Regions from separate parts of the Homo sapiens genome. Here region 1 is linked to region 2. Evidence: fine-mapped expression QTL. A gene starts in region 2. The other region holds a variant in brackets. All regions are shown on one strand. Distances are between the middles of the regions. Region 1 has its middle 24 kb from the start of UTP20. Region 2 holds the start of DEPDC4 (DEP domain containing 4).

The links.
Region 1: its variant is fine-mapped to the expression of DEPDC4 in platelets (CEDAR, PIP 0.95).

What each region holds. Positions count from the first base shown.
Region 1 is chr12:101,247,481-101,263,812 of GRCh38, forward strand. No RefSeq gene overlaps it. Among named protein-coding and RNA genes, the nearest start is that of UTP20, 24 kb to the right of the region's middle. The variant G/A (reference allele first, on the strand shown) is at 8,589.
Region 2 is chr12:100,259,469-100,275,800 of GRCh38, forward strand. DEPDC4 (DEP domain containing 4) reads right to left here and starts at 7,611. Exons shown (of 10, transcript NM_001364818.2): 1 at 7,452-7,611; 2 at 4,029-4,425; 3 at 2,796-2,941. The coding sequence starts at 7,608. It overlaps SCYL2 (SCY1 like pseudokinase 2), which reads left to right and starts at 7,709. Exons shown (of 18, transcript NM_017988.6): 1 at 7,709-8,324. RefSeq lists enhancers at 7,454-7,533, 8,204-8,273, 8,284-8,343 and silencers at 7,904-7,953, 8,054-8,133.

The DNA.
Region 1 (16,332 bases), 990 kb after region 2:
GAAGCCTGTCTTCAATTTTATAGTAATGATATAACTAGAACGTGTGGAAAAAGAGATTTTTTAAAAAGTAATAATATGAGATCCTCTTCCCAAAAAAGAAAAGTATTTAATTTTAAGAAAGTGAGATGATTAAAAACTCAAGTCAGTATGAGTACAGGTGATTCAAAGGTATAGCAAAATTCGTGAAGGCAATACACAAATGACTGAACTTCAGAAATCACTGCGTCAATGCATTTTTAAAGTGTTATGAGGCACAAACAATTCCAAGAAGATGATATCTCCAATTAGTTCCTCTTAATTCTGACCTGAAATACCTAAGAATGATAGAGAGGGGTGAAAGCTGGGATGCCAATCTGTTGCCCACTGTGGCTTCCCTGGCCCCACTCTCTCTCCTCTTTCAACTTACCAAGATGCATCCTTCATCTTCAACTGGTCTTCAGTGCCAAAATTTTACCATAAGAAGACAGAGGAGTTCTGTTTCATGCGTAATGGAAATAAGGGCAATGTAATTATCACAATTAAAAGTTACTTTCGGCCGAGCACAGTGGCTTATGCCTGTAATCCCTGCACTTTGGGAGGCCGAGGTAGGGGGATCACCTGAGGTCGGGACTTCGAGACCAGCCTGGCCAACATGATGAAATCCCGTCTCTACTAAAAATACAAAAAATTAGCCGAGCATGGTGGCGGGCGCCTGTAATCCCAGCTACTTAGGAGGCTGAGGCAGGAGAATTGCTCGAACCCAGGAGGCAGAGGTTGCAGTGAGCCAAGATTGCGCCACTGCACTCCAGCCTGGGAAACAAGAGTGAAACTCCGTCTCATAAAAAAAAAAAAAGTTAATTTCATCAAACCCATAGATATATTCAATCCACACTACTGAAAACATCTTTAAGTTCAAAGGACTTGAATAATAAATTAGTTAATTCTGCAATTATGAAATAGAAATCACAAAATCAATTGTTTCACATAGAAATTATGGGATGGTATTCAACTGAGACCAAGGCAATTGTAATTTTAAATAGCATGAGCTTTAGCTAAGATTCAATAAGTGATAGACAAGTGATGATACATAGATAGGTGGTGGATATGCACACATAACATGTGTATAATCATATCATTCAACAACATGGACCACTGACAATATACATGGTAATGTGCTCATTGCCAAAATAGACGTATTGACAAAAACATGGCCCCTGGCCTCTCAGATTTTCGTTTCAGTTCCCCCAAAAACCGATAATTATTGAGCACTGACTCTGTGCCAGGAACATGTACAAAGTACCTGGCACAGAGTAAGTGCTCAATAATTGTTAGTTCTCTTACCCCACCCTCCCCTTTCCACATTCTCATCATTAATGGAAGATGAAAGAGTCCCACAGATCCCTTTTACAGAAAATGAAAAGGAATGCACTGCCGGGGCCCCTTGGCCCTTCTAATAATGCAAACCATGTAACATGTACAGGAAATTAACTCTAGAATAGACTCAGAATTTTCAGAGCAAATAATTTGTAGCTTCATCCCAACTTTAGACTAACTGGGGGAAAGTTTCTGGGAAGTAGGATAAAATCACCTAGTGTGAGGTCAGCAGGGCAAATTCCAGGAACTGCAGGCTCCCACCCCAAGCCCTGTCCTGATGTCCCCATCCATTGCCTGTGTCGGCAGCTCTGACAGTGGCAGGTTTGACAAAGGTGCATGTTCAGGAAGAGTTGGTGTTAGGGAATCCCAATACGCTCTGCACTTCATTCATTCCTGATAAGTGACTGAGTTCTTTGCAGGTGAGCTAGTCTTGTCCTCCTTCCAGGAAGCCTACTCTAGATAAAAAGACCTGCATAACCTCAGTCACAAAGCTTCTTGAGAAGACACGAGTAGTCAGTTTTTACTTTTCAAAGATATAGAATATTGGCATTTTTTTTTCAGTTGCCCAGAGCCTAGCATAGTGCCTAACCATATATAGACATCCAGGATACCGTGTTGTTTGAGTAATGAATGAATTAAAAGTAGCTCACGCCTGTAATCCCAGCACTGTGGGAGGCTGAGGTGGGCAGATCACTTGAGGTCAGGAGTTGGAGACCAGCCTGGACAACACAGTGAAACCCCCGTCTCTACTAAAATACAATAATTAGCTGGGCGTGTTGGTGCGTTCTCATAATTCCAGCTACCCTGGAGGCTGAGGCAGGAGAATGGCTTGAACCCAGGAGGAAGAAGTTGCAGTTAGCCAAGATCACACCACTACACTCCAGCCTGGGCAACAGAGCAACACTCTGTCCCAGGAAAAAAAAAAAGTATCACTCAGGAAATTGCCAGTTCTGTTGGACTGACCTGTTAAAACTCTAATAAAATGGCAATAGCTAACACATACTTCCTATTATATACTAGGCACTGTTCTAAATGCTGAAAGTTGTTACTTTCTAAAATATTTTTCAAATCCTTCAACAACCCTATGAGGTGGATATACTCATTAATAGGAGCAACTATTATTATACCCATAAGGAAGCTTCCAGCACAGCATAATAGTAAGGAGACCTAGTTTTACTCATGACCATCCATAGCAGCTTGCACAACAAGCCCTCAATCATGGCTGCACCTAAATATACATAAGTCATGTTCCTTTCTTTTCTTTTTCTTTTTTTTTTTTTTTGAGACAGAGTTTCGCTGTCTCAAAGCTAGAAGACAGTGGCACGATCTCGGCTCACTGCAACCTCTGCCTCCCGGGTTCACGCCATTCTCCTGCCTCAGCCTCCCAGCACCCACCATCATGCCCAGCTAATTTGTTTTTTCTTTTTTTGTTTTTTTTTGTTTTTTACTTTTACTTTCAGTAGAGATGGGGTTTCACTGTGTTGGCCAGGCTGATCTTGAACTTGTGATCCGCCTGCCTAAACCTCCCAAAGTGCTGGGATTACAGGCATGAGCCACCACTCCTGGCCATCAATTTCCTTTCTTACAGGTCAAGAAAAATAGAGACTCAGAAAGAGTAACTAACTTGCCCAAGATTGCCCAGCTAACAGTTGGTGAAGCTGAATTCAAGACTAGGTAGTCTTGCTCTTCAATCAGTGCTTCTAACCACTAAGTTACACTGCCTCACAAGAATAACAGAAGCAATTTTTCCACTTACACCACACCCTTCTTATAACAAGATACTTGAACATGTGCATAGCCATGTGTGTTTTGGTAAAGATATACCTACATCTTGTGAAAGTAGCACAATCTGAAATCCTGAACTCTTTCCTTTCTAGTTAGGCCTACAGAACTTGAAAACATACAGTCTCTTTTCATTAATTAGGAAGAAAATCCTGACACTAAAACTAAGCATTTGTTTGCAAATATCCACCTTCATATACCAACCCATATATAAACATTCATGGACTAGACATTGGTTTGAGGTCCTGCTATGATGAACCAGTGGCCGGTGGCCCACCACACACTTTTGTCATTCTGTACTGCTTCCGTCTCTCAACCAACCAAACAGTAACCTGGTCACCCGTCTAAGCCCCTGTCAAGCCAATCCAGTTGTTTTTTTTCCAGCAAGGTGAATTATAGAGCGTAGAAGTATTTTACCTTTTTCTATTACCTTCTCTGCAACAGAAGTCATGGGCCCATAACAATATCCAATCAGAAATTTCTTTTGCCTTGTTCTAAACACAAAGGGATAAGTTTCCTCCTAGATTTTATAAAACTCTTAAAAGAAAATGCATGATTTTTAAATGAAGGCACTTCAAAAAGAGGATTTGAAGATATTACTGGTCCTTGTCCCTTATAGCAGCTATGTGGCCTTCATCTGGGAAAGGGGCACCAAAATTTTGTCGTGACTTTCTTAATAATAGATAGTTGTCACAGTATGTTAATCGAAACCACTTCCCATACTTCCCATAATTGTTAGCTGGCCTTTTCATGGGAGAGATTTTTTCAAAGATTTCCCATAATGACGTAACGTATGAAAACAAAGCAGGTTATAAAATAATATGTATTGTATAATTATATTTTTAATAATACGTATGTATTAACAGGCATAAAAGTGTCCTGGAAGGATACACCCAAGGGTGTTAACGTATTAGAATTATTTGTAATTTTGAATTTTTTTCTTATCTAAATATTCTAATTCTTGCCGGGCGCGGTGGCTCACCCCTGTAATCCCAGCACTTTGGGAGGCTGAGGCGGGTGGATCACTTGAGGTCAGGAGTTCAAGACCAGCCTGGCCAACATGGTGAAACCCTGGCTCTATTAAAAATATACAAAATTAGCCGGGCATGGTGGTGCACGCCTGTAATCTCAGCTATTCAGGAGGCTGAGGCAGGAGAATCCCTTGAACCCAGGAGGTGGAGGTTGCAGTGAGCTGAGATTGCACCACTGAACTCCAGCCTGTGCAACAGAGTGAGACTTGGTCTCAAAAATAAATAAATATATATATAAATAAATATTCTAATTCTTGTGCTACAAATATGTATTGCTTCTGTATTAAGACAAAATGTTTCAACTACTAAAAAAATAAGATTCAGATGAGCTACATAAACAGTTTCTGAGAGTACCAAGATTGCACTAAGATTCTATGCCTCCAGAAGGGGGTAAGAAAGTTAATATTTATTAAGAACTTGCTATATTTCAGACACTTTGTCTTTTTTTTCCCATTTAATCCTCTCTGTGATTCTGTAAGATGGGTAGTATTGTTACCATTTTACAGATGAGGAAACTTGAGGCTCAAGAAGGTTACATAAATGTCTAAATCATATGCTGAGCACAGAGCCAGGATTCCACCAGATTCATCTGATCCCAAAGGCCACACTCCCTTCACTTGCCAAAGAAGCTTCCAGCACAGCATAATAGAAAGGACACCTGGTTTTACTCATCACCATCCATAGCACCTTGCACAACAAGCCCTCAATGATGGCTGCACCTAAGTGTATATAAGTCAAGTTCCTTTCTTTTCTTTCCTTTTTTGTTTTTTGAGACAGAGTTTCGCTGTGTCTCCCAGGCTGGAGTGCAGTGGCACGATCTCAGCTCGCTGCAACCTCTGCCTCCCGGGTTCATGCCATTCTCCTGCCTCAGCCTCCCAAGTAGCTGGAACTACAGGCGTCCGCCACCATGCCCGGCTAATTTTTTTTTCTTTTACTTTTAGTAGAAACGGGGTTTCACTGTGTTGGCCAGGCTGATCTTGAACTCTTGACCTCGTGATCCACCTGCCTCAGCCTCCCAGAGTGCTGGGATTACAGGCATGAGCCACTGAGCCTGGCTGTCAAGTTCCTTTCTCACAGGTCAAGGAAGAAGTGCCATGTTGCACACAGACACTCCACTTAGCCCCTTCACTCATCCCCAGTTAATGCAAATGACTCTGAGATTCTTGTTACAGCTGCAGTGCAATTTGCTGTGTCTTTTAAGACAAAATGTGGTTTGCATTCTCTCTGTTTGTGGTACAGACCCATTATTAGGGTGACTTAGAGCCCTTTGATGATTCTGAGATACATATTACACATGCTCTTAAAGGAAGCGTCTTTACATCACAGTCAGCTGACAATTGGCCTCTTATGTTAACAACTGGCAAAACATCACAGCTTTGCCTTAATTACCTTTTGTTTTCCTGTCCTGTTGCTTGTTTTGTTAAGTATTAATATGACTTTGGTTTCCCCCTCACACCAACAAGCTTCAGGCGATTCATTTATGATCTCTCTTTGCTGTCACATCACTTCTGTGAAGAATATAATCGCTGGACATTGTTTTCCCATTATGAAAAAGGACGCAGTGAGGAAGTGCAGATGCACCTTATGGAATAAGACTGGCAAAATGGCAAGTGGGGAGTGATTGGCAAGAAACTGACATTATAGGAAAAGAAGCAAACTCTGAGCAGACGTGGATGGGCATTGACATTTAGGCAGTGGGAGAAAGAATATGTGGATATGTGATAATGGAGGGAAAGTACTTCCACTGACAACAGCAAGGACTATTTCTGAGGCTTTTACAATGGGCCAGACTCAAGAATAAGTGTTTTACACGTGATTCATCCTCACAAGCAGGATCAGATCCAAGGTTTGTGCAGCTCTGAAGATGACACATTTTGGGAAGAGGGCAGGGGTCTTTAGACTAGAAAATTACAAATACAGTGTACCTAAAGCCCTCCTGTGAGAAGCTTGTACAAGTGAGGTGTCTTGAGCCTTAAGCTCCCTGAGCTTCATGACAAACCCATAAACCCTCTGAAGTGGTCTCATCCATTCCACATATAAGTGAAGCTCAGCAAGGTTGGCTGGGCACAGTGGCTTATTCCTGCAATCCCAGCACTTTGGGAGGCCAACGTAGGAGAATCATTTGAGTTCAGGAGTTTGAGGCCAGGCTGGGCAACATAGTGAGACTCCATCTCTACAAAAAAATTTTTTAAGTTAGCCAGGCATGGTGATGCATGCCTGTGGTCCCAGCTACTCAGGAGGCTGAGGTGGAAGGATCACTTGAGCCCGGGTGGTTGAGGCTGCAGTGAGCCGTGATAAGCCAGAGCACTCCAGCCTGGGCAACAGAGCGAGATCCTGTCTCAAGCATGTGCACCATACTTGAACATATACAAGTATGCAAGTGCAAGGGAGTTGGCATCTCATGGGGCAACTTAACCACTACAGGGCATGAACTAGTGGATAAATGTTCCCCTCTTCTGACTCTTAGGCAGATGATTCTGAATGGGTGACGAACTCATCCTGGCTTTCCAGGGACCTGAGTTTTCCCTGGTTTAGCATGGAAATCCCGTGTTGCTGTTGGTTATCCTAATTCCGAAATGCAATTTGCAGGACTGCTTAGAGAGTCCCAGGGGCATCAAGTCCCAGTTTCCCACAGCTTAATAACACACGCTGTTTTGCCTTTCCCTGCTTTCCTGAGATTACTTCCCAGGATCAGCAAGGTTAACTAACTTGTCCAGTAACACAACTAGCAAGTAACAGAACAGGCTTCCAAAATCCTAAAAAAAAATTTCCAAAGCCCCCAAATAGGCAAACTCTTATTTGTCTTGAGGACAAACTCTTAAAGCAGCAGCACAAACACCTTGATGTGGTTCTGTGAGTTTTCCTGGCAGGGCCCAGCCTATCCTTTGTCAGAACCTGCAGAGCTTGGGGCTGTGGAACCCTACCAAGACCTCTGGTGGAACTTGTATCTTTCAGATTCATAGAATCTATAAAGAAAGCCACTGTTGAGGTGGAGAGAAAAACAAGTTTTAATGATTCAGCTCTTTGTATCCACAAACCAAAAAGCAGGGAAAAAAATTCTTTTTAAGACACACATATTTAATTTAGCCATAGTCCTGGATAAAAACTTCCAGTGTTAAGAGCTGGATGCGGGGAATTGCTGGTAAACTGGCTCAGGGAGGGGTGGATGTGGAGAGAACATGGATTTGTAGCATCTGTCAACTTCTGTGGTGTCAATACTCTCCCCATGACTGATTTCAAGCTACCAGTGGTTGTTTGGCTTGAAACATTCCTGAATATTTAGCAACTGGCTTTTACAAGCAGGTAGGAGCAGCACACCACTGGCTGTGATGATCATGACCTCAAGTTCTACAGTAATTAGAAAGACCTTTCTTACATCTCAGAGCCAAATATTTTTGGCCCTGATATCTTGTCTAGTTGGCACTGCGGAAAGAAGATTTGAGATTGTTAAATCTCGAGAATCTTGTCAGGGGTCTGGGTGCAGTGGTTCATGCCTGTAATCTCAGCACTCTGGGAGGCGGAGGTGGGTGGATCGCTTGAGGTCAGGAGTTCGAGACCAGCCTGGTCAACATGGTGAAACCCCATCTCTACTAAAATACAAAAAAAAAAATAGCCAGGCATGGTGGCACATGCCTGTAGTCCCAGCTACTTGGGAGGCTGAAGCAGGAGAACTGTTTGAACCAGGGAGGCGGAGGTTGCAGTGAGCCGAAATCATGCCACTGCACTACAGCCTGGGCAACAAAGCAAGGCTGTCTCAAAGGAAAAAAAAGAATGTTGTCAGGGAAATAAGTTGGGAGTTCTTCATGGTCCACTATGACCCATATATAAAATCTTTCTTCAATATGTGCTCAACTAGTGAAATGGACATGAAACAGGCCACCAGGCCTATTAACCCTAGTGGCGCTAGGAAGGGACAAGGCCCCTGACACCCCACAAGCCTTTGCCCATCATGTATAACTGCACCTGCTGCAATAGAACAACTGGTAAAAGCAAAATCTAGCCTAACCTCCTAATTTTGTACACTTGATCTTAGCAGAGTAGCAGCCAAGAATTTGGAGATGAAGAAACTGAGGCCCAAGGAGAAGCGTGTCAAAGGTCACATAGGATTTTAAATACTAAAAGTGGGACCAGAAGTTAAGTCTCCTGACTATCTGTCTGCAGTCCTTTCTATATCTGGCTGTTCAAGCAATTAAACCTTATAATAAATATTTCATTACACTGTCTTTGAACAGTGCCATACCTTCCAGACTAATTTTGTAACAACGTCAGGAAAGTGATAATTTGGCTGTTTGGGGCCCTGACTTATTTCACTTGCCTCTGTCTTTTTAAGTTTCCTAAAGTTGGAAACACTCATCACTGCACAGATAAGCTAAGCATTGCCCAATTCAAAGACCAGCTAGATTCCCCATAGAAAACAGAGCC[G/A]AAGACACAAGCTTGTGTGAAGGCAGTATATATTGGGAAGTAATCCCAGAAATGCAGGAAAAGGCAAAACAATCTGTGTTATTAAGCTGTGGGAAACTGGAACTTGATCTCACTGGGACCCCCTAAGGAGTCCTGCATAATGCATTTCAGAATTAAGGTAACCAACAGCAACATGGGATTTCCAGTGCTAACTCAGAGAAAACTCAGATCCGTGGAAAGCCAGGATGAGTTCATCACCCTTTCAGAATCATCTGCTCAAGAGTCAGAAGAGACGAATATTTATCAACTAGTTCATGTCCTGCAGTGGTTACATTGCCCCATGAGATGCCAACTCCCTTGCACTTGCATACTTGCATATGTGACAGTCAAAATACATTTCTAACAATGTCCAAGGAAGTTGAGCAAGAGCAACCCCAGGGCAGAATGAGATGCAGGGCAGCCACGTTGTGACTGAATGCAAGTCTGGCTGCTCATGACTTGAGAGCCAAAATATGAGAAGCGAGTAAAAGGAAAGCAACTTTATTCAAATGCTAGCAATTGGGAAATGGCCAGGCTTGTGCCTCCAAAAGACCATTTCAAGTGTTAGACTGAAGGAAGGGATTTTAAAGGGGGAGACTTGGCCAGGCGCAGTGGCTCATGCCTGTAATCCCAGCACTTTGTGAGGCCGAGGCTGTCCGATTGCTTGAACCGAGGAGTTTGAAACTAGCCTGGGCAACATAGTGAAAACCCATCTCTACAAAAGATACAAAAAAAATTAGCCAGATGTGGTGGTGCACACCTGTAGTCCCAGCTACTCTGGAGGCTAAGAGTTGGGAGGACTGCTTGAGCCTGGGAGTTGAGGCTGCAGTGAGCCATGTTCACACCACTGCACTCCAGCCTGAGCAACAGAGAGAGACTCTGTTTCAAAAAATATGTTAAAAATAAATAAAAAATAAAAAGGGGATACTTAGTATGAGAACCATGCCAGAGTAACACAAGATACAGGCCTGCATGTCTTCTTCCAAGGGTTATTTTGAGTTGTTGTCCACTTGGAGTGCTGGCTGGTGCCATCTCAGTTGCAGTCAGTTTATAGATGTCTGTCATGAGGTAATCTCCAAGTAGGGGAGAATTCTGCAGCTGGGTCTCCTTGCCTGGCTGTTGTGTAAAATCAGCCCCTGGAATTTATTAACAAGTATACAGTTAGATACGTGTCCATGGTGCAAGGGAGAGTCTGGTGGGAAAGAGAGGGAAGCAGAGTTTCAAAGTACATTTCAAGGTATATTTTAAGACTAAGGAAAAGAGAGTTTCTACACTCAGTTTCGAGGTTACATCTTAAGACTAGAAAGAGAGGAAAAAAGTTTTAAAATGCATTCAAAGTTGAAAGACTCAGTTACAAGGTGAGGGAAAGTAGATTCACTTCTCTGGGTGCTGGGTGCTGCAGCAGGGACTGGAGAAAAGGTAGGTTGAGAGGACGTGAGGCAGTGCAGAAGCGGTGTCTCACACAGGGCATGAAGGGCAGGCAGCCTTGGTCCCTAGGCTGATAAGACTTCAGTACCAAGTGACCCTCTGGGACCTGGAAGATGGTGACTACAATCCATGAAGGGACAATTTATCAAACCGTCCTTTCACAGATCTCCCCATGACAAGATACTGATCCACTTTGTGGCTTTCCTTCTCACCTTTATCACTTTCTCCTTTACTCCCTCAACAAATATTTAGTGAGTACCTATCATATGCCAGAGACTATGTTAGTTACTTAAAATGTAGCTAAACATAATCCTTATCCTCAAGAAGCATTTAGGGGAGGGACCAACCAGAAAACAGACAGCTACAATACAATATGATGGTGCTAGAGAGAATGGGCCAGAGGGGAAAGGGAGAAGAAAGATTTCATGTAAGGAAGTAGTATCAAAGCAGAGTCCCTAAGGATTACAAGAATAATAACAATAGTAGATAACTTTTATGGGATGCTTACAAAAAGCCAGGCAATGTTCTAAGGTCTTCACAGTACTAATGTAATTAATCCTTACAATAGCCCTGTGAAGGAGGTGCCACGATGATCCTCAACTTTGAAATGACAAAGCTGAACTATAGGAAAATTAAATAAGCATGCCAAGGTTTAAGGCACAATGGCACACACTGCTAGCTGGTCATTCACCAAAACTCATTTTCTCTTCTTCCTGGGCACACAGTTAGGTGACGTTTCCCAGCCTCCCTTGCAGCTAGATGTAGCCTTGTGACTGAATTCTAGCTAGTGGAATGGGAGCAGAAGTGATGTGTACCATGTCCAGGGCTAACCCATAAAAGCCTCTCACATATACCCTCTGTATGCTTCCCCCGTTAATGGAGAAACTAAACTCCATAAAAAATTTTTTCTTTCTTTCTTTCTTTTCTTTCTTTCCTTCTTTTTCTTTTCTTTTTCTTTCTTTTTTTCTTTCTTTCTTTCTCTTTCTTTCTTTCTTTCTACCTTTCTCTCTCTCTCTTTCTTTCTTTCTCTCTCTCTTTCTTTTCTTTTCTTTCTTTCTTTTTCTTTTCTTCTTTTCCTTAAACAAGGTCTTGCTCCGTTACCCAGGCTGGAGTGCAGTGGAATGATCATAATCATAGCTCACTGCAGCCTCAAACTCCAGGCTCAAGCGATCCTCCCACTTCAGCCTCCTGAGCAGCTAGGACTGCAGGTATGTGCTACCATACCCAGCTAATTTTTTTTTTTTTTTTGTAGAGATAGGATCTTGCTATGTTCTTCAGGCTGGGCATTAAACTCCTGGCCTCAAGCTAACCTCTAGCCATGGTCTCCCAAAGTGCTGGGATTATGAGTGTTAGCCACCACACCTGGCTAAAATATTTTAAAGATGTTATTCTGAGTCAATATGAGTGACCATGGCCTGGGGAACACAGTTTCAAGAGGTCCTGAGAAAGTGCACCCTTGGTAGTAGGATTACAGTACAGTTTTACACATTTTAGGGAGGCAGGCGTTACAGGCAAAGATATAAATCAGTCACATGGAAGGTATTTACACTGATTCAGCCTGAAAAGGTGGGATATCTTGAAGCAGGTGCTTACAGGGTATAAGTAAATTCAGAGACTGTTTAATTTACAATTGGTTAAAGAAATAAAGCTTTGTCTAAAAATTCGGAGGCAGCAAAAAAGGAATATTTCATATTAAGATATTGTTTTCCAGTACACTGGGTTACAGTGAATTATAAGAATGTGTGACTCAACCCTTCTTGTGTCGTGTTAGGTCCTATTTGTAATTTGGCATCTTATTGTGACAATAAGTCCATTTTGTTAGCTTTACGATCTCTATTTTAACACTAATGCTGTTCAGTTGTGCCTAAACTCCAAAAGGGAGGGAGGATAACAAAGCATATTGGACCTTCCCTTCTTGTGATGGCCAGGAATTCAGTTTTTAAGTTTTTCTTGAGGTCTTCTTGGCCAAGAGGGGGTCTGTTCAGTTGGTTGGGGGGCTTAGGATTTTATTTTTAGTTTACATTCTCTTCTGGATGTCTGGAAAGGGTGACCTTGGAAAGCAAATGTTGAAAATGGTTGTCTCAGGCTAGGCGCAGTGGCTCACGCCTGTAATCCCAGCACTTTGGGAAGCCAAGGCGGGCTGATCACCTGAGGTTAGGACTTTGAGACCAGCCTGGCCAACGTGGCGAAACCCTGTCTCTACTAAAAATACAAAAATTAGTCGAGCGTGGTGGTGGGCGCCTATAATCCCAGGTGCTCAGGAGGCTGAGGCAGGAGAATCGCTTGAACCCGGGAGGCGGAGGTTGCAGTGAGCCTAGATCGCGCCACTGCACTCCAGCCTGGGTGACAGAGCAAGACTCCATCAAAAAAAAAAAAAAAAAAAAAAAGAAAGAAAGAAAGAGAGAGAGAGAGGGAGGGAGGGAGGGAAGGAAATGGTTGTCTCTCTATTAGTTTAAGTCCCTACATAGAGAAGGGCATATGCCACTGATTATTTGCTTGCCTATAATTGTTATTTGAGCAAGAAATAAACTTTTACAGGGTTTAGGCCATTGTAGACCTTTGGGTCTTTCTGTTGCAGCAATAATTCCACCAATTTTATGAGTCTATTTGGTAAAGCAGTTAGTCTACCATAATTAACATGGGCACATATAAAAAGATGGCAGAAAATCAGGTTGAAAAGATAAATGAAGGGTGCCATGCATCGTGTTTAAAAGTTTACCTTTTTCCCAAAAGTATTGATGAACTTTTCTTCTAAGACGGAGCAGAAGGGGGAAAAACAGACAGATACAGTTCCAGTTGGATAGAAAGGATAGTTGAGGTTCATATAACTTGCACTCCTTTTGTGAGCACTAAGAGGCAGTGTCATCTTCTTAGGGTATGCTGGATGTGTGAGTGTGTGTGGGTTGCAAAGGAGCAGGCCAGGAGCACCAGAAAGGTTTAGAACAACGCGAGAGGCAGTTAGGAGGGCAGACTTTGGAGCTTGAATCAGTCAGACTCCAGTAGAAAAAACAGGTATCACTCTAAGCATTTTCAAGAAGAAGGAATTTGATACAGGAAATTGAGTGTTCACAGAACTTATGGAAAGACCTGAGAAGGCAAAATTCAGGCAACTCTCCACTAGCTTTCAGTTTCGTTGCCTCAGAGCTGGAGAGCTGCTGCCATCCAACTTAGAATCCTGCAGGAAACGACTGCCAACTTCAGAGACCTCCACCATCCCAAGGCAGGTAAACTGGCAGGGAAATGTAGTGTCTGCTGTAAAAACTCATGTTCGTGAACTCTACTGGGATGTTTTTAAAACATAACTGCACATTCTTTCATGTTCTTTTCATCAAGAGATGTGGCCTGTGTCCCTTTCCCTGGAATCTGAATGGGCTGTGACTGCTTCAACCCATGGGGTATGGAAATAAAGCTATGTGACTTCTTTTTTAATATAATTTTTATTTTTATTTATTTATTTTTATTTTTTATTTATTTTAAGATCTGGGATACATGTGAAGAACATGCAGGTTTCTTACATAGCTATACATGTGCCATGGTGGTTTGCTGCACCTCTCAACCCGTCATCTAGGTTTTTTTTTTTTATTATACTTTAAGTTTTAGGGTACATGCGCACAATGTGCAGGTTTGTTACATACGCATACATGTGCCATGTTGGTGTGCTGCACCCATTAACTCGTCATTTAGCATTAGGTATATCTCCTAATGCTCTCTCTCCCCCCTTCCCCCACCCCACAAGAGTCCCCGGAGTGTGATGTTCCCCTTCCTGTGTCCATGTGTTCTCATTGTTCAATTCCCACTTATGAGTGAGAATATGCGGCGTTTGGTTTTTTGTCCTTGTGATAGTTTACTGAGAATGATGATTTCCAGCTTCATCCATGTCCCTACAAAGGACATGAACTCATCATTTTTTATGGCTGCATAGTATTCCATGGTGTATATGTGCCACATTTTCTTAATCCAGTCTATCATTGTTAGACATTTGGGTTGGTTCCAAATAGCAAAAGACAATAGTCTTTGCTATTGTGAATAGTGCTGCAATAAACATACGTGTGCATGTGTCTTTATAGTAGCATGATTTATAATCCTTTGGGTATATACCCAGTAATGGGATGGCTGGGTCAAATGGTATTTCTAGTTCTAGATCCCTGAGGAATCGCCACACTGACTTCCACAATGGTTAAACTAGTTTACAGTCCCACCAACAGTGTAAAAGTGTTCCTATTTCTCCACATCCTCTCCAGCACCTGTTGTTTCCTGACTTTTTAATGATGGCCATTCTAACTGGTGTGAGATGGTATCTCATTGTGGTTTTGATTTGTATTTCTCTGATGGCCAGTGATGATGAGCATTTTTTCATGTATTTTTTGGCTGCATAAATGTCTTCTTTTGAGAAGTGTCTGTTCATATCCTTTGCCCACTTTTTGATGGGGTTGTTTGTTTTTTTCTTGTGAATTGTTTGAGTTCATTGTAGATTCTGGATATTAGCCCTTTGTCAGATGAGTAGGTTGCGAAAATTTTCTCCCATTTTGCAGGTTGCCTGTTCACTCTGATGGTAGTTTCTTTTGCTGTGCAGAAGCTCTTTAGTTTAATTAGATCCCATTTGTCAATTTTGTCTTTTGTTGCCATTGCTTTTGGTGTTTTAGACATGAAGTCCTTGCCCATGCCTATGTCCTGGATAGTATTGCCTAGGTTTTCTTCTAGGATTTTTATGGTTTTAGGTCTAACATGTTAAGTCTTTAATCCATCTTGAATTAATTTTTGTATAAGGTGTAAGGAAGGGATCCGGTTTCAGCTTTCTACAAATGGCTAGCCAGTTTTCCCAGCACCATTTATTAAATAGGGAATCCTTTCCCCATTGCTTGTTTTTCTCAGGTTTGTCAAAGATCAGATAGTTGTAGATATGAGGCGTTATTTCTGAGGGCTCTGTTCTGTTCCATTGATCTATATCTCTGTTTTGGTACCAGTACCATGCTGTTTTGGTTACTGTAGCCTTGTAGTATAGTTTGAAGTCAGGTAGCGTGATGCCTCCAGCTTTGTTCTTTTGGCTTAGGATTGCCTTGGCGATGCGGGCTCTTTTTTGGTTCCATATGAACTTTAAAGTAGTTTTTTCCAATTCTGTGAAGAAAGTCATTGGTAGCTTGATGGGGATGGCATTGAATCTATAAATTACTTTAGGCAGTATGGCCATTTTCACGATATTGATTCTTCCTACCCATGAGCATGGAATGTTCTTCCATTTGTTTATATCCTCTTTTATTTCACTGAGCAGTGGTTTGTAGTTCTCCTTGAAGAGGTACTTCACGTCCCTTGTAAGTTGGATTCCTAGGTATTTTATTCTCTTTGAAGCAATTGTGAATGGGAGTTCACTCATGATTTGGCTCTCTGTTTGTCTGTTATTGGTGTATAAGAATGCTTGTGATTTTGGTACATTGATTTTGTATCCTGAGACTTCGCTGAAGTTGCTTATCAGCTTAAGGAGATTTTGAGCTGAGACAATGGGGTTTTCTAGATATACAATCATGTCATCTGCAAACAGGGACAATTTGACTTCCTCTTTTCCTAATTGAATACCCTTTATTTCCTTCTCCTGCCTAATTGCCCTGGCCAGAACTTCCAACACTATGTTGAATAGGAGTGGTGAGAGAGGGCATCCCTGTCTTGTGCCAGTTTTCAAGGGAATGCTTCCAGTTTTTGCCCATTCAGTATGATATTGGCTGTGGGTTTGTCATAGACAGCTCTTATTATTTTGAGATATGTCCCATCAATACCTAATTTATTGAGAGTTTTTAGCATGAAGGGTTGTTGAATTTTGTCAAAGGCCTTTTCTGCATCTATTGAGATAATCATGTGGTTTTTGTCATTGGTTCTGTTTATGTGATGGATTGCGTTTATTGATTTGTGTATGTTGAACCAGCCTTGCATCCCAGGGATGAAGCCAACTTGATCATGGTGGATAAGCTTTTTGATGTGCTGCTGGATTCGGTTTGCCAGTATTTTATTGAGGATTTTTGCATCAATGTTCATCAAGGATATTGGTCTAAAATTCTCTTTTTTGGTTGTGTCTCTGCCAGGCTTTGGTATCAGGATGATGCTGGCCTCATAAAATGAGTTGGGGAGGATTCCCTCTTTTTCTATTAATTGGAATAGTTTCAGGAAGAATGGTACCATCTCCTCCTTGTACCTCTGGTAGAATTCGGCTGTGAATCCATCTGGTCCTGGACTTTTTTTGGTTGGTAAGCTATTGATTATTGCCACAATTTCAGCTCCTGTTATTGGTCTATTCAGAGATTCAACTTCT
Region 2 (16,332 bases):
GAAAACAAAACGTCGTAAAGGAAAAGGAATAATATATATTTTCAGTTATAACAACAGATGGTTTATTACATACCTCAACTCTGAATAGCTCTTTTCTACAAAATAATGTAAACATGCTGTATTGCTCTAATCAAAGCAATCTAATTATATTAAAAGATGGGGGCATAGGGAAGTATTCGTAAGATAGATACAGGGAGGGAAAGAGACACAAATCCCCATTTTCCCTTTTAGAAAATTAATGGATGTGCCTAAAACTGAAAAATCATAAAGTAACAATATAAGCATGCTATTTAGAGATACGAGTTGTAAATGGCCTGTCTGGGGAGGAGGGAATGAAAGGGTGGGGAACTGCTATTTTTTTGTAACAAAACTAGAACAGCTATTTGAACGGTTACGTTATGTGCCTATAAAACAAGGGTAAGGATAATACTTTTAAAAACCCACATTAGAGTGACAGCTTTCATTCCCTCCTATGTCTTTTTTTTTTTTTTAATGTGATCCTTCTGATTCTGTTTCCCTAACTATAAAATGCAAGTTTTACCCTTCACTTTACAGGCTACTGTAAAATCATGGATAAATATAAAATGCATAACAAATTGCTTAGCACAGAGAAAGGTCCAAAATAAGTGGAAATTATTCTTATTATTACCTATAGAATTTTTTTTTTTTGAGACAGAGTTTCGCTCTTGTTGCCCAGGCTGCAGTGCAAAGGCGCGATCTCCATTTACTGCAACCTTTGCCTCCCGGGTTCAAGTGATTCTCATGCCTCAGCCTCCAGAGTAGCTAGGATTATAGGCACGCACCACGACACCTGGCTAATCTTTGTATTTTTAGTAGAGATGGGGTTTCATCATGTTGGCCAGGCTGGTCTTGAACTCCTGACCTCAAGTGATCCACCCACCTTGGCCTCCCAAAGTGCTGGGATTACAGGCGTGAGCCACCGTGCCCTGGCCTTTACTGATAAATCATATCCACTTTTAGTTTGAAATTTCTAGAGGTACGTCATGACCTCAAGAAAAAATAATGGGAAAAGTTATTTTTTCATTTGTACTAGATAAAAACTGTACTTCTGGGGGACTCTCCTGCTTGCCCTTTAAATATTAGTCTTCATCAGAGTTCTCTTACGGCCAGGCATGGTGGCTCACACCTATAATCCCAGCACTTTGGGAGGCCAAGGCGGGTGGATAACTTGAGGTCAGGAGTTCAAGACCAGCTTGGCCAATATGGCAAAACCTCATCTCTACTAATAATACAAAAAATAAATAAATAAATAAAAAATTAGCCAGGCATGGTGGCACACGCCTATAGTTCCAACTACTCTGGAGGCTGAGGCACAAGACTTGCTTGAACCTGGGAGGCAGAGTTTACAGTGAGCTGAGATCACACCACTGCACTTCTGCCTGGGCGAAAGAGTGAAACTGTGTCTCAATGGCCAGCCAAGGAGGCTCACGCCTGTAATCCCAGCACTTTGGGAGGCCAAGGTGGGTGGATCACTTGAGGTCAGGAGTTCGAGACCAACCTGGCCAACATGGTGAAACCCGTGTCTACTAAAAAATACAAAAATTAGCCGGGTGTGGTGGCGGGCGCCTATAGTCCCAGCTACTCTGGAGGCTGAGGCAGGAGAATCACTTGAACCTGGGAGGCAGAGGTTGGAGTGAGCCAAGATCACAACAGTGCACTCCAGCCTGGGCAACAGAGCGAGACTCCGTCTCAAAAAAAAAAAAAAAAAAAGAGTTCTCTTTTAGTTCTTCTTCTCAATTCTACACCCTTTCTTTGGGCACCCTGTATTTCCTTTATCATGCCAATGTTAACTATTGTTGATAAATCACAGTCCTCCAGTGTGCAAGTCATAGCTAGTCTTGCTTCTGTCATGGTTTGACCAAATGGAGTAAAGGGCCATTAATGAATTTTGTATGTATCTCTCCTAACTGCCCTGGCTATGGTGCTCTTTTATCTGCCATTAGTGGCATTTTAAGGAGAAAAACACAAGTAGATGAAGTAAATAGTAAAGAGGAGTGGTGCAACAGGTAGTTTAGCTAGTTTGTTCTGAGAAAGGGAAAGAGTAGGAAGATGTTTGGGAGGAGTTTACACAATGGACAAAGGATACACTCATTAAGAAGATGGTCTTGCAGGACAAATACTAAGGACTGTGGTGAGTCCGTATGTTTTCTCTTGCAGTGCAGACTATAGCACCTCCAGTTAATCTGGTCACAGTCATTGTAAAAAATGAATTAAGTGTTATTAGATGTATATTGCCTCACCTGTCTTATCTGATGTAATTGCTGTGTAGAAGGAAACTCCTACAGGGAAGAGAAGGAGGGAGTCAACACACTAATACACTACTTAAATCACATTTAAAACGTCAGTTCTTGGAAACAGTAAAAATATTAGTGGTTGCCTAAGGTTAGAGAGAAGGGAGGAATGAGTAGGTAAAGCACAGAGAATTTTTAGGGCACTGAAACTATTCTGTATGATACTATAATGACAGATAATATGTCATCAAAAATTTGTACAAACCCATAGAATGTACAACACCAAGGCTGAGCCTTAATGTAAACTATGGGCTTTGGGTGAAAATGATGTATCAATGTAGATTCATTGATTATCACAAATGCACCACTTGGTTGCAGGATGTTGATAATGGGGAAGGTTGTGTGTGAGTGGAAGCAAGGGGTATGTGGGAACTGTACTTTCTGCTCTATTTTGCCGTGACCTTGAAACTGCTTATAAGAACCTGTTAAAAAGAAGTTAGTTCTTCCTTACCATGTTCTGAAAAAATAATGAAAACAAATTACCTTCTTTTGAAAGCCGGAGAAAAGGTTTCTGAACTGTGATATTTGGACATAAAGCTGGATTCCCATTTATTGTATGAATAAGTTCCTCAATTCTTTCCTCACCAATCTCCTGTGCTAGAGGATTTGAAATCATTTCATATCCTGGTCTGTTAAAAAATAATACGTGGCTCTTTTCATTATACACAGAACCAAAATTTCAAATATATATTTAAATTAATGTATTAAAATTTATTCATACATTCTCTATTTCCAAAAACGATTTCAGGCAGCTTATAATAAAAGATGCAAATAATTCATTTAATAGACTATCACCAAAAGAGGACAAATTAGAATTCTAAATAAAGAAGAAAAGCATATATGCTAATTCTAAGGTTAACATAGTTGTTATGATGGAATAGAAAATTTTTGTTCTGAGTTTCCAGAAAACCTTGGCTTTTAGTACACTGGCTAAGTCATTTTTCAAATTAGAAAGCATATCCATTCCTTAGAAGACATAGTTTTTCCTGGTATAAACTCTGAAAAATTTATGTGATAATGTCTTCAACAACTAAGCAAAACAGAAAACAAAACTGTATTTGCTCTAAGGAAAACAAAATGTTGTAAAGGAAAAGGAATAATATATATTTTTGGTTACAGCAACAGATGCTGCTATATTGGAAACAGTAAAAACTACTGAGATATAATTCACATCCCATAAAATTCACTTTTTTTTGAGACAGATTCTTGCTGTGTCGCCCTGGCTGGAGTACAGTGGCACAATCTTGGCTAACTGCAACCTCCACCTCCCCAGCTCAAGCGATTCTTGTGCCTCACTCAGCCTCTTGAGTAGCTAGGAATACAGGCACCTGCCACCACATCCCGCTAATTTTTGTATTTTTAGTAGAAACGAGGTTTTGCTATAATGGCCAGGCTGGTTTCGAACTCCTGATCTCAAGTGATCTGTCCGTCTTGCCTCAGCGTGGGCCACCCTACCTGGCCAAAAGTCACCCTTTTAAAGTGTATAACTCAGTGTTTTCTAGTACATTCACAAAGTTGTGCAGCCATCACTATTATCTAATTCTAGTCTATTGCATCATTCCAGTTTTAGAGGAAATGCATAAGTGGATTAATTTTCACATGGATTTTTTTTTTTAATTGGCTTCTGAAAAAAGTACACATTCGAGTTTAGCTCAATAAAGACAGTTCTTCTAGGGTCTAAATAAAATATATTACAGTATCTTAGGTAACACTAACCTCAAGGTTTCATTGAACTCATTCTCAGCATCCTTTTGTCTTTTGCAACAATCGTAAGATGATTTATTGCCTAGAAACCTGTAGAGACTAATGTTGGAATCTTCAAATTCTAATTCCTTTTCTTTTTTGAAAAGCTTCTTCATTCCTACTGGTTCAAATACTTTGTGATTCATTAGAACTTGGCAAAGATGAACCCCTTTAAGACAAGAGATGTCATTGCTACTTAGGCACGTGTTTTGCATAAGATGACTTAAGACCACATCGACAGCATCAGAACCAGTGAAACAGTCTTTGTATGTCTGTAAATGATGCCTCCTTCTTTTTATTTCCACTTGGGCCTGAAGAGAGTGAATAATACCATCCCATAGCTGAGTAGCTTGAAAAGGACCAGAGCATCCTGAAAAAAATTAAATATGCATTTCTAACAAATCTAGATTATACAAAAATATGCAAATTTTTCAGTTTTGACAACCTTATGCTTGTTGAAGGCATATCTGCTGGTAATGTCCTTCTTACGTGTCATCTCACATCTTACATAAACTATAGTATATTTACTAAGTTGCACCATGTGGGTCTGCCAATAAAAACAGAGTAAACCTGGGAACTTGCTTTACTGATGTGAAATACATTATTATATGAATTTATATACCCTTATTACATGGTTAACTACTAGTTATACCGAATCTTCAAGAATGTTATTTTAGGGCATATTTAAAAGTAATGCAAATACACTTGAGTATTGATTATTACAGAGTTGTGGCTTCACCAAACTCTTTGCCTTTTCTTTTTTCTTTTTGCCCTTTTGAACAATGGTTAGTTCTTCATTAGGGAGATCAAGGCAAAGAACTAAATAATCAATTTTTTTAATTGTTTAAACCAGCTGTTTAAAAAGTTTGCTAAGGCCAGGCACAGTGGCTCATACCTGTAATCCCAGCATTTTCAGAAGCCGAGGCAGGCAGATCACCTGAGGTCAGGAGTTTGAGACCAGCCTGGCCAACATGACGAGACTCCACCTCTACTAAAAATACAAAAATTAGCCGAGCGTGGTGGCATGCGCCTGTAATCCCAGTTACTCGGGAGGCTGAGGCAGGAGAATCTCTTCAACCCAGGAGATGGAGGTTGCAGTGAGCTGAAATCGCGCCACTGCACTCCAGCCTTGGTGACAGAGCAAGACTCTGTCTCAAAAAAAAAAAAAGTTTGCTGAAAAATGAAAGAGGGTCACATACCCACTTGAGCTGAATACTTGAATATAACCCAATTATCTAAATTATGAAGTGAAACTACCAAACATTGTAGAGATATTGGGCTCTAGAAAGTGCTTCCACTGTTGCTCCCGATTAAGGGGTTTAGATAAAGATGTGCCTTATTTTACATGGACATATTGCATAATGAAAAAAAATTGCCTTATCACATGCTGAACTTACTCTCCAAATAACAGAAATCCCACTTCTCTGGGCAAAAAGAAAAAAAAATTGCTGAGAAATAATGAAAACCTAAAAACAATCAAAATGTCTATTACTGGCCAGGTTCAGTGGCTCATGCCTGTAATCCCAGCACTTTGGGAGGCTGAAGCAGAAGGATCGCATGAACTCAGGATTTCAAGACTAGCTTGGGCAACACAGGGAGACTCTATAAAAAATACAAAAAATTAGTGGGGCATGGTGGCGTGCTCCTATAGTCCCAGCTGCTCAGGAGGCTGAGGTGGGAGGATCACTTGAGCCAGGGAGGCCGAGGCTGCAGTGAGCTGTGACCCTGCCACTGCACTCCAGTCAGGGCAACAGAGTGAGACCCTGTCTCAATTAGAAACAAAAACAGTTGGCCAGGCGCAGTGGCTTAAGCCTGTAATCCCAGCACTTTGGGAGGCTGAGGCAGGTGGAGGTCAGGAGTTCAAGACCACACTGGCCAACATAGTGAAACCCCATCTCTACCAAAAATACAACACAAAAAAATTTAGCTGGGCATGGTGTCGCACGCCTGTAATCCCAGCTACTTGGGAAGCTGAGGCAGGAGAATTGCTAGAACCAGGAGGTGGAGGTTGCGGTGAGCCGAGATCACGCCATTGCACTCCAGCCTGGGCAAGGGAAAAAAAACAGTCTATTACCTGAAAAAAACAGTTAAATAAATTATGGTATACCCTTACTATAGAATAGTAGCCAGCCATTAGAAAGAATGAAGTAGAGCTATGTTTATAGTGTGCAAGGATCTCATTAAGTAGGGAAAAAGAAAAACCCAAAACAAAAATTTTTTAAAAATGAGCTGAGCAGAACAACTTGTATATTATTATCCTACTTAGGTAAAAATGAATTCCCAACCTATGTAAAAATGTATGTAAATAAATAGAAAGATCTGGAAGAATAAACTTCAAACGAGTAACCTTGGGGAAGAAGGATTGTAATGGTGGCTGATGAAAGAGGATGTACCCTTTTAAAGTGTACAATTCAGTGTTTCTAGTACATTCACAAAGTTGTGCAGCCATCACTATTATCTAATTTCAGACCATTGCATCATTCCACAAAGAAACCTATAGTTCGCAGTCATTCTTCATTCTTCCGTACCCCAGTAAAATTTTAATTAAAATTAAATTTAATTAAAATTAATTAAAAAAATTAAAGAATGATAAGGGAATAACTTAGAACTTCTAGAATGTTTTTTCTAGATTTGCAGGGGGAAGTGGGTAGAATCCAAGAACTTAAGCTCTCTTCTCCAACTATGCATAACCGCAAAAGTATGCCCAACTATACATATGTTTACGATAAAATGACAGAAATAAAAATCCACCACCCTCAAATTCCTTCTGTAACAGAAGTTACCCGTCTAATCACTCAAGAAATCTTATCCCCAGACATTGTGGGCAGAGCGGAGACTGAGGAGGGGAGGCCAGAAAGTGATGGGCGGAGGTGGGCAGGAGGGTACTCGACGGGGTAGGTGGAAAATACAGCGGTACAGCCTGTTTTCCATAGACAGTCTACCTCTCTAACCTTCATTAAACAAGTAGGCTAGATTAAAGAAATAACTCCTCTAGCTCAAGGAATTTGCCCTCTAGTACATTAACCCCTTGTTGCTGTAAGTGTAGCCTAGGGACCAGCAGCATTGGTGCCATCTGGACATGTATTAGAAACGCAGATTATCAGACCCTACTCCTCAATCAGAATTTGCACTTTCACAAGATCCTAGGGATTCGTATGTATATTAAAGTTTGAGAAAAAACGCTTTCCTGCACGCTCCAAGGGCACTTCACCACAGTAACCCCTAAAAAGCCTCAGTCCTGGGTCCCCCAGTCCAGTGCCTGGTAGGGCAGGAAGGGGGCGGGGCTAGGAAATGGGCGGGGCCCTGGACCAATGAGGAGCAGAGTCCCAGCCGCCTGCTCCCTTCAGCTGCCCCCTCCACCTTCACTGCACATTTGGCTAGGATATACAGGGCTACCTGTCCTCCTTTTCCGGCAGAAGCCATCTCTACGGTTCCTGGAACTTGGCCCGTTCAGCCCTGGGCCCGGAAGCTCGTTCTGACTGACAAGTCTACGGAACCTCGGAGTCAAAAGAACCGCCATAAGCTCGCGCGCTGGCTCCTCCCCTGGCACCATAGCCCCGCCCCACCTGACACCCGGGGCGGAGAGAAGTACTGGCTCCGCCTCTTCCGAACCGGCAGGAAGTGACGTCATGCCCCCGGCCGGCAGGTCTTTTAGTCTTTTTCCCCCTCCCTTACTCTTCGTCCCCGGTCCCTCCCCTCCCCACCCCTTTCCTTCTAGCTCCGACGTTTGCGGCCGCGGGGGCGGCGGAGGATATGGAGTAAAGCCAGAGTCAGTGGCCAGGCACGAAGGCAGAGCAGGAACAGCCAGGAGGCGTTTATTAGGGGGGCGGGGGGAAAGAGCCCCAGCACCGCCCCTCCTGGAAGAAGGAAGAGGTAAGTGACCGGCCGCCGGCACCGACCGACCTCCCTCACCGGCGGCTCTCTCGCCTGGGCTCCCGGAGCCGGCGAGGAGGGAATGGAGGACTCGCGCCCGGGTTAGGCCTCCCAGGGCCGCTCAGGCTGGTGGGTGTTGCCTGGTGACGGGCCTGCCGGCGGCCGGCCGGGCGATCGGCGGTCGGCGCCCGCGCAAAGCGGGGCTGGACGAGCAGCGAGCTCCGGGGAGCGGATCCGAGAGGGCCGAGTCCTCGAAAGAGGCCTTGAGGCGACGGGAGACCCGGGATCGAAGTCAGCTGCCGGAGGGAGAGCCCCCCATGCCGGCTCGAGAGCTCGGGTTTCGGTGGTGGAGAACGTAGTACCTTTCGGGGACATTGGACACTACTCTAGGACCGGGTGAGAGAGTTCACCTCAGTTCTGAGGTCCGGAATCCGGTAGCCTGGGTCACCAGCCAGGGCCCTGCCGCCCGCCGTCCTTCTCTGACAGTAGCTTTAGTTCTGGAATGGAAGGTTATTGTGTGTGAGGTGGGTGGGGCAGGGGTTTTGTTAAGAGAAAAAACCCCACGGTTACTCCTGCAGTCTTGTTTTTCTAAACGGGAGAATACGGATGGAGGAGGGTTTAGACCGATAAAGCTTGCAAAAACTTATTGGACTTTGAGCACATACCTGTGATCCGTAATTAAGGAGGCCATATTATCAAATCCACCCTCTAAGGCACTCGAGGAGGCTCCAGACAAGCTGCTTAAAAGCGCTATGCCTGTAGTGACTTCATTGGAAGGTGTCAACTATTTTTTAGTACGTCAAACTCAGGAATTATTTGTGATGACACTTTCTAAAAACATTGGATACTATGAGTGAGTTTTCTAAGTAGCCTATCTCCGTTCTGAAAAATAAATAGTTTAGCAAAAATGCTCCAAATCAGCCTGCCACTGTAAAACCCCATTATGTTCTGGTGATGGCTTGAAAGTCAGGTGCTTGAAGATTCCTTTTGGACTTTGCAGGTTTGTTGTTGTTTGGTTTGCTGTCTTATTCTTTAGCACAAATATTTTTAAAATATTTAAAAATGAAATCAGCTGAGTATATAAATTACTTCTTGAGGCAACATTAAACTGTAATCATAAAGAATGCTTTTGGGGGATTGTGTAAAGGAAGGGAACCTAATGGAAGGTAAGGGCCTTCATTCTCTTTAGATTTACATTACTCACATGCAGAAACCTATTTTGTCTCTAAGATTCATAAATACCCAGTAAAATAAATACAGGCACATTGTACTTCTATACTGTGGAATACTTTCTAGACAGATCAACCCTGTTACTGGGAATAACTACTCATATTCACATGTTTGAAATTCATGATATACCTCCCTTCCCCCACCCCAAGAAGAAAAATAGCTCCTCTTACTGTGTTTAACTCCGTGGGTAGCATCACTATCCATTCCTTTGTATAGAAGTTGAAGTTTGACAATTCCTCTGTCGTGCTTCATACTCAGCCTCTCATGAAGTCCTGTTGATTTTGCCTCTTGAATATCTCTTGACTCTTGTCTGCTCTTCGTCTGTAACAGTAGTCCTGTTCCAAGCCACCACCATCTCTCATCCTGACTACTTCCGTAGCCTCCTGATTATGGTCTGCTTGCATCTACTGTGGTCTCCTGTAGTTTTCCAAACAAGACTTAGTGACTTTTTCAAAATGCAGACCTAATAACATTGTCTTAGTGTTTAAAATCTTTCAGTGGCTTCTCACCATTTTTAAGTAAATCGAACACATTAACATGCCCTACAAGCCCTGCATAGTCGGTCCCCTTTCCAAACTCATCTCCACTGTGCTTTCTGACATTCCCTTTCTCCCCTAGTCACCCTGTCTTTTCTGTTCTCCTGCTTCAAGTATGTGGCTTTGGTTATGCTACTTCCTCTGCTTGGAAATGCCCTTCCTTTCTTTTTTTAGCCAATTATGCCTATTCATCATTCAGCTCACTTCAGGGAAGACTTTCCTGATTAGAATACATTCTCCTGATTATATGTTCTTACCACACCATTGAAGAGTTGTCATGTTTATTAATACTTAATAAATTAATTAGATGTTCCTCATCTCCTGATGTGTAAGTGCTGAATGTTTATTAAATGAATGAATTCATTTAATGCTTACTGAATGGGCCAAGAATTGTACTAAACATTTTATCTTATCATCACTGTTAATCCTTATAACAATCACTTGAGGTATAGCTAGCTTTTCCCCTTTTTGTAGATTAGAAATAGTGTTAGGGTGGGTAGTTAGTTGGTGATGGCTCTAGTAAATATTAGAATTGGCATTTGAACTCAGATTTCCTTACCACTGAAGAGTGTGTACTTAACCATGTAACTTAATTTTAACACTTTGCTGTTCATCAGAATCACTTACGGAGCTTTCTCAGGATACAGATATACTTCACCTTTATAGGTTCCGATTCCAAAGGTTTGAGATACTACCTAGGCATCTATGTGGTTTAAGAAGTTATCCAGGTTATTTAGATGTTCACCAGAATTTGAAAACCACTGTCTTAGACAGTACTTGTGTTTTATGAGTTTGTTTTCATACATTGTATTTGAGATTTTATACTTTTTTTTTTTTTTTGTGAGACGGAGTGTCACTCTGTCACCCAGGCTGGAGTGCCGTGGCGCGATCTCGGCTCACTGCAAGCTCCGCCTCCCAGGTTCACGCCATTCTCCTGCCTCAGCCTCCCGAGTAGCTGGGACTACAGGCGCCCACCACCAGGCCTGGCTAATTTTTTGTATTTTTAGTAGAGACGGCGTTTCACCGTGTTAGGCAGGAGGGTCTCGATCTCCTGACCCTCGTGATCCACCCGCCTCGGCTTCCCAAAGTGCTGGGATTAAAGGCGTGAGCCACCGCGCCTGGCCGAGATTTTATACTTTCTTAAATTAAGGAAGAACTGTAGACTTTAAGGAAGTGATCATTTAATCTAATTTCCTACTCAGTTATTCCTTGTCCCTCTTCTCTAGCTGGAAGGCCTGAATAGTGAGAAACTGTCACCCCTCTGCTACTGCTTTAAAAAAAAATTACAATAATTTCAAGAATCTGATTAACTTCTTGTTGTAAAAACTATAGTTCACTAAATACATGGGCTGGAAGTAGCTTCAAAAAACTTGGATGTAATCTTTCCTCAGATCTTACTTATTGTTTAAATTACTAATTTGATATTTAAGCGTATGTTGCCTGAAATTTCATGTTGCTTTCTTTTTTTTTTTTTTTTTAATATTTTTATTTACATAGAGACAGGGTCTCACTATGTTGCCCAGGCTGGTCTCGAACTCCTGAGCTCAAGTGATCCTCCTGCCTTGGCCTCCCAAAGTGCTAGGATTACAGGCATGAGCCACTGGCCTCATGTTGCTTTTTAAATCTTAAATCTTATTGTACAGTGGTCTTAAAATTTGTGACCAGTGACAGAAACTGAATGTTTTACTTCTTGTTTCTCCCCCTGCATTTAGCATGGTGCTTTTCATCTAGTAGGTACCCAATAATTTGTGTACTAACTTGGCTGTACATTGCTAAGTCTTTTCAGTTTTTTATGTTCGTTTTTAAAATCAGGCTTGTCTTCTGTAATCTGTTCTGGCTTAACTATGTCTGATAATTAGATACTCTTTGTAATTGTAAAGAGAATGATTATACTCAGCTGGTTTAATCTTTGTTCTGTATAAGATTAAACATGATTTCTGTATAGAACAAAGAAGAGCATTATCCAGTTTTTGAAAACTTTCTTTTAAAAAACTTCTAGTAATCTCTGAGTGCTCCCACAAGCAGAAATGTATATTTCAAGAATACATCTTAAGGCCAACTCTGGCCTTAAAGTTAGCCCTGCTCCTTGCAGAGCAGCAAAAAAAAAAAAAAAAAAAAAAGAGAGAGAGAATATATCTTAAGATCATCTTTCTTTAGATACAAACAGGTAAGTACTGCATATGGGAGTATAAGCACACGTATTTTCCCCCAGATTTTGTGAAGTATTTAACCGTATTTCATGTCTTCTGAATGTAATTCTTGAATGTAATTCTTAATTAGAATTACAAAAATTCATTGAATAACTATAAATGATGATATAAATGGTATTCTCTTATTTTCAGGCATTTACATACAAATCTCAGACCTTTGTGCCCCTTTAAGGGATAAAGCAAACTATTTTGAGTTTCTTTGTTTTATATTGTTGTTCTTTGTAGTCAGTGTCTATTATTTTGTGCTTTTTGAAAGTCTAGTCTCTGCTAGGTGCCATGAGACTGAAAGTTATTAAATGTAACTTCATTGCCAGATGTAATTACGGTAAGCCTTTTATTTGCATTGCAGTGACTTCAACAAAAATGGAAGCTCATTCTGCTTTATAATATTTTATTCTTGGGATTGTAAGCTTGGGAAGCTGGGGAAAAAAGTAAAAATATATTCTTGGGGAAGTATAGGACTGTTTGTAGTCATGTTATTTGAAAATTCAGGAAGTCTTTGTTAAGCATAAATATAATTTTACCTGTTACATTTCTTGCTGTATCTAGAATTCATGAGCAGGCAGGACTGAAAGAATTGCCAGTTCCTTTCAGCTACCTGCTGTCAGATGCTGTAATACTCATCCTACTTTCTGCCAGGTGCACGTAAAATCTAGTATTACAACAGATTCACATGCTGGTTCTATTGAAAGCCAGGTGATGGCTGAGCTAGATGGTAGAGAGATACACAGTCTTGGAATCATACTGAAGCTACCCCAAATCCTATTTTGGCTGAAATTTAGGAAGGGCAGATGATTGAATTTCAAGTGAATTATAATAAATGGTGTACAATGAGAAATGCCTTACATGACTAAGAATTTCCATCATTTATAACTTTGTCATTGGAAAATATAGGCTTTTTTCTTCATTAATCAAAGGAAAAATGAAAAGCTATCATTTTAAGAAAAGGTATTTGGACTCTTAGGTTTCTTATATGTCAAATGGCTATGCTAATAATTCAAAATCTCGTTTAAGTTCAGGTCTTATTTTACAGGCTCCTTGGAGATTACTCTGTCCTTGGCCTTCTGTAATTTTCATGGTATTCTTGGGTGATATTTTTCAAGGCCATAGTCTACCATACTGGCTCATCGTGCACCAATTTTTACTTTCAGTCTGGACGGTTTTTTCTAAGTTTTTGGCCTGCATGTCTAAAAACCTATTAGATATCTCCATCTGAGTGTCATTCAGGCAGCTCAAATTCTACATGTCCAAGTTGAGTTCTTCCCCTATAAAACAACTGGCTTCTATATGTCGTTGGTAAATGGCTTCACCTTCCACCTAGACTGTGAAATTGGGGGTGGGGTAGGATTCTTAGTTTCGTTCTTTTCTTCTCTTGGTTTTAACTTGTTTCTTAATTTTTCCTTTCTTCTCCTTTCTCACTGCTATTTTTGTAATTCAGCAACGCTTCTCCCTTTAAAAATTTGTTTAAAATGTGAAATATAACACATAAAAGTATATAACGTAGTTTAACATGTAAATACAAAATAAATATCTGTATAACTAGCACCTTTGAAATACCTCCTTTACCCACCATCTCTTCTCTATCTTCCTTGACCATATTTCCTTTATTTTCTTGCTTTTATATATTCTGAATTATAAATATCCCTGAATTGCATATTGAAGTTCTCTTCAGTCTTGCCATATTCTCAGCCTCCACCTTTAGTATATCTTTCACTCTGCTTGATAGAGTGATTGATCATCTTACTGATGCCTGAAACCCTTCTGTGGCTTCCATAGCTTGATTTCTTACTACTCAATGTCCTTGGTGATCTGGCTTTTTAGCCTCCTTTGCCATACTTTCTTCTTTTTCTTCAGCTTTTAACTGAACTTGGTTTTTGCTTTGTGATTTTACTCCTACAATTCTCCTATTCTCTATCCAGTTTACTCCTCTAGCATTACTGTTTTTGGGAAACATTCTATTCCTCTTCTTTTTGTTCCTATAACACTGTGCATGTATATTCTGTAGCGTTTTATCACTCTGTAGGCTAGTGCTGTGGTGGTTTTACTTGTCTGTCTTCTCCCTTTGATGTAAGATTTTTCATAGCTTATTTTTCATTTACTTCCTTCCCAGTTTCTCATATGGTATCAGATACATAGTGGATACTCAGTAAATATTAAACCACCAAATGAATTTCCATGCCTGTTCTTTGCCATACGTACATCAGTGTTGACTCTGGATGATGGATAGCATCTCAAATTTGAATATCAATTCTGAAAATATGCTTTGTTTTCATATGTAACTGTAGTTTGCAGACCACACCATAGTCTTCCTCCCTTACATATCTTGGCACGTGGTATTATAATCCCTTCTGGAATACTCCTTCCCCCCTTACTTTATAGTTTTGAGCCCATCTTAATATTTCCATAGCATGTACATTCTTACCACAAGTTAATTGCTGTAACTCTTTGGAGGACTGAGTCTGCTATTGGACGGAGTCCCTAAAAAGAAGAACCTCTGTATTCTCAGTGTATAACAAGATGCACGGCATTTAATATATAGCTTGTCAGGCAGCGTTAGAGGAATAGATATGTATGGTTTTAAATAGAATTTTGTATCCTTTCACCTTCCCGTCAAAATCAACAGCAGATGTTCATAGAGAACAACTTGGCATAGCCAGTAAATGTTTTCATAATGCCAGTAGCAACATTTTCTAGCTGCTTACAAAAATGCAGCATTAAATTAAAAAGGGAAAGTCAGTCTCCATTTCCATTTACAGACAGTTCAAATCTTTAATAGAAGAAAGTGGGTTATATTTACATAAGTATAATTTCGTTAATAGAGAAAACAGGATACAAACTACCTGAGATCAGTGGTCTTCAAATATTTTTGCTTGTGTATCCAATAATTTTGAATAACATGTGCTCCTCTTGCACATTTTTTAAGTTGATCACAGCTGGAGTTTTTTTGTCAAGAGTTTAAATAGTTGCAAAAGATCTAATTTCTAAATTGTCGTATATTGTGATAGTGCTTTACTTTATCAAAACCTTGGAGTTTATCAATTGAAATAAATGTGTTCCTATATATCTCTGTGACAACCATCTTCTTAACTGTAGTTCTGTGGTAGATAAGGCGTGGGTTCTTGTTGTTATTAACATCTGTCCTGAAAGAAGCAAGGTACAGCCTCCTTTAGTATTTCTTATCAAACTTCCTTGTGCTTTACTCTTAAGTGGCTTTCTCATAGAATTAAATCTACAGATTGCATCCCCCTCCTCCCACAAAATTTTTTTACACCTAGGAAAATGGCCTACAGTAACACTGGGATGGCTGAGAGAAATACTTTGTTTTAGTCAAGTGGGAAAAAATTGTGAACAAAGAAGTGGTTAAGGAAAATCTTCAGGACATAGACTTGTTCTCAGGCAAATCAATTTTAGGAAAGAGTACACCTGGAAGTTGACAATTTGGAGAGCGATAGGGCTTTAAAACCTTGGTTTGTGCCATAGACCCTTTTGACAATTTAGTAAAGCCTGTGGATCCCTTCTCACAGTAATATTCTAGAATCAGTTTGTCACTTTCTACAGAAAGCCTGCTGGGATTCTGGTTGAATTGCATTGAGTTTCTAGATTATTGGGGATAACTGACACATTAACCATATTGAATCTTCCAATTCATGATCACAGTATATATCGTTCCATTTATTTAGGTTTTCTTCAGTTTCTGTTAGCAGTATTTTGTTTTCATTGTATAGATCTTGCATAGCTTGTTAAATTTATTCATAGGTATTTCATACCCTTGAAACAGTATTTTTAAATTTTAAATTTTCTAGTAGAAATACATAGAAATGCAATTTCTTTTTTTTTTCTTTTTTTTGAGACAGGGTCTCACCCTGTCACCCAGGCTGGAGTGCATTAGTGTGATCACAGCTCACTGCGTCCTCAACCTCCCAGGTTCAAGTGATCCTTCCACCTCAGCCTACTGAGTAGCTGGGACTGCAGACATGTGCTACTGCTCCTGGCTAATTTTTAAAAACTTTTTGGAGTCTTGATATGTTACCCAGGCTGATCTCAAACTCCTGTACTCAAGCAATCCTTCCACTTCAGCCTCCCAAGGTGCTGGGATTACAGGCATGAATTACTATGCCCAGCCTAGAAATACAATCTTTTCAAATATGTTGTTCTTGTATTCTACTATATTGCCAAACTCATGTATTCATTCTGATAGCTATTTTGTAGATTGATTCCTTCTGATGTTCTGTGTATGCAGTTGTGTCATTTGGGAATAAATTGTATTCTTTCTTTGCAGTCCGAATGCCTTTTATTTCATTTTCTTGCTTTATTGCCTTGGTTAGGACCTTTACTGGAATATTGAATAGAAGTGGTAAAAGTGGGTATACTTACCTTGTTCTGAAACTTAGGGAGAAAAGTGGTTAGTATTTTATCTTTAAATATAAT